Homo sapiens: one gene and its partner. The protein of the gene in region 2 interacts with the protein of the main gene of each other region in a biochemical or structural test. Each region holds a gene or a part of one and is shown on either strand. Other genes may lie near its edges.

The links. The genes of interacting proteins can lie anywhere in the genome.
Region 1: the proteins of VCP (region 2) and NGLY1 form a complex in vitro, tested with the Homo sapiens proteins (2 studies listed by BioGRID).

The regions. Positions count from the first base shown.
Region 1 is NC_000003.12:25,721,444-25,724,443, forward strand, and holds part of NGLY1 (peptide-N(4)-(N-acetyl-beta-glucosaminyl)asparagine amidase), read right to left. Parts: intron 1,457-3,000; coding exon of another isoform or gene 1,292-1,456; exon of another isoform or gene 1,234-1,291; intron 1-1,233. UniProt on the Homo sapiens protein: Specifically deglycosylates the denatured form of N-linked glycoproteins in the cytoplasm and assists their proteasome-mediated degradation. Cleaves the beta-aspartyl-glucosamine (GlcNAc) of the glycan and the amide side chain of Asn, converting Asn to Asp.
Region 2 is NC_000009.12:35,055,626-35,059,125, forward strand, and holds the end of VCP (transitional endoplasmic reticulum ATPase), read right to left. Parts: coding exon 3,439-3,500; intron 1,906-3,438; coding exon 1,751-1,905; intron 1,598-1,750; coding exon 1,492-1,597; 3' UTR 439-1,491; downstream 1-438. UniProt on the Homo sapiens protein: Necessary for the fragmentation of Golgi stacks during mitosis and for their reassembly after mitosis. Involved in the formation of the transitional endoplasmic reticulum (tER).

The sequences.
Region 1 (3,000 bases), on a different chromosome or scaffold from region 2:
TATTAGCTTTAAAAATCCTCCACAATTAGGCTGGGCACGGTGGCTCACGCCTGTAATCCCAGCACTTTGGGAGGCTGAGGCAGGTGGATCACGAGGTCAGGAGATCGAAACCATCCTAACACAGTGAAACCCTGCCTCTACTAAAAATACAAAATATTAGCTGGGCGTGGTGGCAGGCGCCTGTAGTCCCAGCTATTCAGGAGGCTGAGGCAGGAGAATGGTGTGAACCCGGGGGGCGGAGCTTGCAGTGAGCCGAGACTGCGCCATTGCACTCCAGCCTGGGCGACAGAGCAAGACTCCATCTCAAAAAAAAAAAAAAAAAAAAAAAAAAGAAAAGAAAAAATCCTCCACAATTTCATCCCACCTTGAATTGCCAATGCTCCTTTTTATTTTTTTATACTATACTCCTTTATACTGCCCATACTCTGACCTATCTTCATCAAATCATAAGCTCTCTGGGGGCACAGTTTCTGGATTCATAAAAGCATTTAGTGCCGGGCACAGTCATTCACACCGGTAATCCCAGCACTTTGGGAGGCTGAGGCAGTCGGATCACTTGAGGTTAGGTGTTCAAGACCAGCCTAGCCAACATGGTGGAACCCCATCTCTACTAAAAATACCAAAATTAGCCGGGCATGTTAGTGCACACTTGTAATCCCAGCTACTCGGGAGGCTGATACATGAATATTGCTTGAACTAGGGAGGCAGAGGTTGCAGTGAGCGGGATGGTGCCACTGCACTCCAGCCCGGGTGACAGAGCGAGACTCTGTCTAAAAAAAAAAATAAAAATAAAAACATTTAGTAAATATTATTAAAGATCTGTATACACACATATATATATATATATATTCATGTTAGACTTGATCTTTTTAGAAACATCTAACTCATACTCTAGCTCAGGGGCAAATAGTTGAAAGTACCATATAAAACACATCTGCCATGGAATATCCTATTATATGTACTATTCTGTATTCTGGTCTTTACTCATATCAAGTAAAAAAATCAATCGCCAATAGTATTCTAATCACCATCTATTTGACAACCAACCTATAGCTATTTTTCTTCCAGGTATGCCCATTAATTTAATCTGAAAATTTTTAGAATCAGTGAGTTAGAGATTATGTAACAACTGAACAATCACTCTCCAAAGAAAATGTTCTTAAACTACTCAGAGTAGATATGTATAGCCAACTGTTATTTGTTGTTGACAAACCTAGATGTGGAACTGTCAATTGCTCCACTCAAGTTTGGACAACGCCACTATAACATCCTCTGGTGTTCATATATGTTCCTACTGCATGCTCCTCTTACAGCCGCTTGTAAGGAGGATGTGGGACTCAGGACTCCACCAGTGTTCCCCGGGAGTCATTAGTTTCACCCATCCTAAACTATTAGGCATCTGGGTTACACACAGGTTAACTGCTCCTTTAAAGGAATGGCTAGCAAAGGGGGATATCTGGGAAAGAAGAGCCAAACAGAGAGGTTACTGGAAGAAAGGTGAATTAAAAGAACTAAAAGACTTAAGGAAAGTAATCTTAAGACATAAACATTAACAGATATACTCAAATTTATCTCTCAATATGCACTTCTATATCTTGTATATTTTCAGAGCTCACTAGATTCAAATGTCCCTCAAAAGTGTGGGTATAAAATATGATAGGCTGAAATTACGTTAACTTCAAATCTAGCTTACTCCAATAACTGCCTTAATTATATTGTGTGGGTCTGGGTCAGAACTGTGGTTTTAACTGTTTAAGAGAAGGTTTATAGTAGCTGTTGAACATGTCTGACAGCATTTATTAAAGCCTTAAAATTTTCAGTCCTAAAGGCATCATCAGCTTTTAAGACTCTAGAAAGTTAAAGAATAAGATAGAGTTCATGATTTAATACTTAAATGTTTAAACATTCAAACATACTATGAGCAAAATAAAAAAGGTCTCTTATGTTAAAGAACAGTATATGGAGATAAAACACCCTATTTATACAGAAAATTCCTATCATCTTTTTTTGCACAATATATTCTGTCAAAGACTCATTTTTAGAGGTGGTAGAAAGTTACCAAGAATATGTATACTCAGTTTAGTAAATTAAAATGTACCACAACAATAGAATTTATAAAAAACCTCCAACTCTGATCCCACTATGTATAATATGAACACAATCAGTAACTATAATTTATTTAAAAGGAAAAAAAAAAGCAAACATTCACTTGTTTAGTGTAGAGAAAAAAAATTTTTTTTACAACTGTTGATTGTTCCTAACATCGTGAGTTATTTGATAGACATATTTTTGCCTGTTGGCTTTAAAAAATTTTTTTTAAATTTATTGTGTGCATTCTGTAAGCTCGGTTTTGTAATGTGTAGGTCTCTAAAAGGTGAGTGTTGCTATCCTACTTTAGCAGGAGTGCTAGTAAAGTCAGAAATCATGGAGGTTTTCTCCTGTATTCTATATATACCACCCAACCCCTCCTCCCACCAGTGACCCATCCTTGCTCCTTGTTGTAAGCACATATGAGCATATACACCCTTTGCGTGAGAACAAGACCTGTGTGTCTACGGTTTAGGCATAAGCCATACTATTCACAATATATAAAAATAGAACTTGTCTTTAGGTTGTGGCTGTAACCACTATTTTCAGGACTGAGAACAATTTGCATGTTGGCTTTATGTAACTAATATTCTACAGAAGATTTTGCTCAAAGATTTTTTGATTACTACATGTCAGGCTGCTATGGCTCCCTAGAGGTTCAGTTTGGACTATATTGTTTGAAGCTCTTCTTTAATACACTCTTAAAATTATTGTTCTACTGAGGCTGCTAAGATTCACTCAAGTTCAGTTCACCATACAGCAAGCACCCTGAAGTCCGTCATTCCCACAGATACCCAGCAAAGCAGCTGTATTTCAAGGAATCTCAAATTGTTGCTGGTAAACCGGTACTTGCAATGAGTCTTGTTTTTGGTTATTCCATTTTATGTTGAAAATCAAACATGAATCCACTTG
Region 2 (3,500 bases):
TGAGTGTTTATCTTGCAAAAATGTTACTATTCCCTATTTTATCGTGTAGTGGCCTATGAAACGTTCTGTTGTGTTGTTTCTCAAATAAATACGCTTTTAAAAATGTAAGTAAATTTTCGAAGAATGTTTAGTATTTCTTCCAGAATTGTATTTTGGGATTTTGACCTTTTGGGATTGTGATTTTCAGAATTTTAGACTTTAGGGATTTTGATCTTTGGAGATTACAGTATTTTATTCAAAATTACGGTGTTCAGGACTGTCTTTTGAGATTATGTCCCAAAGCCAATCAACATATATTTAATTTAGTAATTTATTTTCTCTGCACTACTCTCTCTCTGGGTAAGGCATCACTGTACTGACCCTAGAAGCACTAAGTGATTACTGTTGAAGAGGATAGTCTATTTTCTGTTTGGAAAAAAAAAAAATTCAATACTAAAATTTTATATTAACAAAAAGTTTTTTTTTTTTAATCAAAGTACATAAAATAAAGGTGGACACAACTGTAAGTGATCACCAACCAGGGGATGTTTGGGATTTTTAGATGCATTAAAAGAGAGTATAGAGAATATCCACCTGCAAGTAAGATTGTATTCTTTTGCAACCCTGCGATTTTCAAATGGCACCCCAACACAGTCTTTGGTCAGGATAAGGGATCCTGCAGGCCTAGCCTTACCGTCCACATCAAATATAGGTGGAGGGATGCCATATTCTCCACATTTGGAGCTCTGTCAGGCTGCTCCCTTTCCACCAGTCCTATCCAGTGATACTGCAGACAAAGGGTGAGGCAACAGGAGACATCATACCGATGTTGATCAGGAGAGGAAGAAGGTGCAATCTTACTTCCAGGATTTCACATTTGGAAGAATGCCTTGGGAGTGGTGGGTAGCCCAAGGCTGTTCCCAGGAAAAGAAGCAGGCACAGGGCCCAGGACTCAGGCTCCATTTTGACCCAACGTTTATTGTCCTTTTACAACATGTCATTTTTTGGTTTAGAAACTGCTTGTGATTAGTTTTCCAACATTAACTCAAAAGCATGTAAAATAAATCAACCTACTCTCTATATAAACATCCAGCAACTGTGGCCCCTACCCACCTACCCAGGTTGGATAGGGGGAAGGGAGGGCTCGGGCAGCATTGAGTCAAGTGCAGATGCTTTACTGTGGCAGGTGGCAGTAGTGCCTTGGTTCACACCCCACACAGGTCCCCTGCACTGCCCCAAACTACAACAGAAATGGCATAGGCCCAAGGCCCAATTCCCTGTTGGTAATTCACTCTCCGCCTACCAAATGAAAATCGCTTTTATTTTATCGCTTTTGTTTTGTATTTTTGCAACAGAAACCCCCTGTCCAGAGTCAGACTGTAGCTGAACTGTTCAGACTGGAGAATGGAGCAGGCTGTGGGCGCACCCCTGGTCCCTCTCCTGGGCAAGCGCCCCCACCCCCAGGGAACAAGGTCCAGGCAGGCCAGCTCACTGCACGCTGGCCACCACCACTTAGCCATACAGGTCATCATCATTGTCTTCTGTGTATACACTGCCACCTGTGCCGCCTCCACTGCCCTGACTGGGGCCAGCTCCACCCTGGTTCCCTGAAGGGAATCTGTGTACAAGAGCAAAGCCAAAAAAGAGGGTTAGGACAGGGCCTGTGTAAGATTTCCACAACTACCCCTCTAGCTTCCTTAGGACTCCCATCCCTTTTGGTGTAGGTCCCCAAAGTAACTTAAGCACTGTCTAATGCTCCCAACCAACTTACCTGAAGCTGCCAAAGCCCCGACTCTGCTGAAGGGTCTGGGCAAACATCTCATACTTCCGAATGTCATTGTCACTGACAGAACGGCGCGCAAAGCGCATGGCTTCTTCAAAGTGATCTCGACGGATCTCAGGCACTGGATCATCCTCTTCTACCTCCTATAGTTGGTAAACACAGATCACTAGGGCTAGTTAAAGCCCAGCCTGGATTTCATCCCAGGCCTCCCATTACTGCAGTTTATTGGTCTCCTTGCCCTTCCAATCCAACCTGAGGTAAGATGCTAGGCCATGCTTCCTAAAATTGAGTCACTGCTCTGCTTAAAAACTTGTCAATGCACTCTGGAAAAGGGAAAACTGTAGGGACAGAAATCACATCAGTGATGGGGCTTAAGGAGGGGAGATGTTGACTGAAGTGGCTAAGGAAACTTTTTGAGATAGTAGAAATTTTAAGTCTCAACTGTGGTAGTAGTTATAGAACTTACACACACTTGTCATAAAGCATGGAAATGGTATATAGAAAGAGTGAATTTTATTGTATTTATATCATACCTTAATAAACCTTAATACTTTAAAAGGAAATGCCAATGGCTTTCAGTGCTTACCACATTTGGATTACATCCTACCTAGCGGTCTCACTTCCAGTGACATATATACTCTTAAATCTACCCAGGGTTTCCCAATGATTGCAATCCTACTACTAGAGCACATTATTTGGGCTGCTTATTCCCTTTATTCAAATTCTACTCTCTTCACAGCCCAGCTCAAAACCTATCTCTTCCATTGAGAGGCCAATTTCTGTGACTTATGTGACTACCTCCTAGGATTAGTTCATCAGTAGTTGTTAAGCTTTTATGGGAGAGAGAAGGGATGTCACAGACCCTTCAAAAGGGAAAGAAAGCCATTTATTTGCTCATTAAGTCCCATGTTTGGAACTTAATGAATTAATTAAGGGTAACACAAGACATAGTGGAAAACAAGTGAGATGACAGAGATCTTACCTTTATGGAACTTACAAACACATGAATTTGCCTTTTCATTTTGGGAGGTCTGTGGACCCTATCCCTTCCCCAACCATCAGGGATAAGTATATGAGTCTCATCTCAGCTCAAAACCTTGCTCTGTGGTTCACGCCTGTAATCCCAGCACTTTGGGAGGCCGAGGTGGGCACATCACAAGGTCAGGAGATCGAGACCATCCTGGCTAACGTGGTGAAACCACGTTTCTACTAAAAAAAAAATACAAAAAACTAGCCGGACATGGTGGCATGTGCCTGTAGTCCCAGCTACTCGGGAGGCTGAGGCAGGAGAATCGCTTGAACCTGGGAGGCAGAAGTTGCAGTGAGCCAAGATCGTGCCACTGCACTCCAGTCTGGGCAACAGAGTGAGACTTCGTCTCAAAAAAAAAACAAAAAACAAAAAACAAAAAAAACCTTGCTGTGTTTGCTGCACTCTCATACTTTGATTTCCCTCATGGAGCTTGGTTCAGACTGAGAATGGAGCCTGACCATCTCTTCTCGGCCTTATTCCAAATTGAATGGATTCACCTCAGCATTCTTTATCTTTGATGCCCTATTAAAATTCTTCTCAGTTAGATGATCTTTCCAACAGCTTCTACTCTCAACTCCAGGGCATGGTGGTGGCTGCTGCCTGGCTCTCCATGATTGGCACATCTGGGGAAAGGATGCAGACTCACCATGGCTGATGGGTTTGTCTGCCTCTCTCGTTCTCGCCTAATCTCACTCTCGATGGATTCAC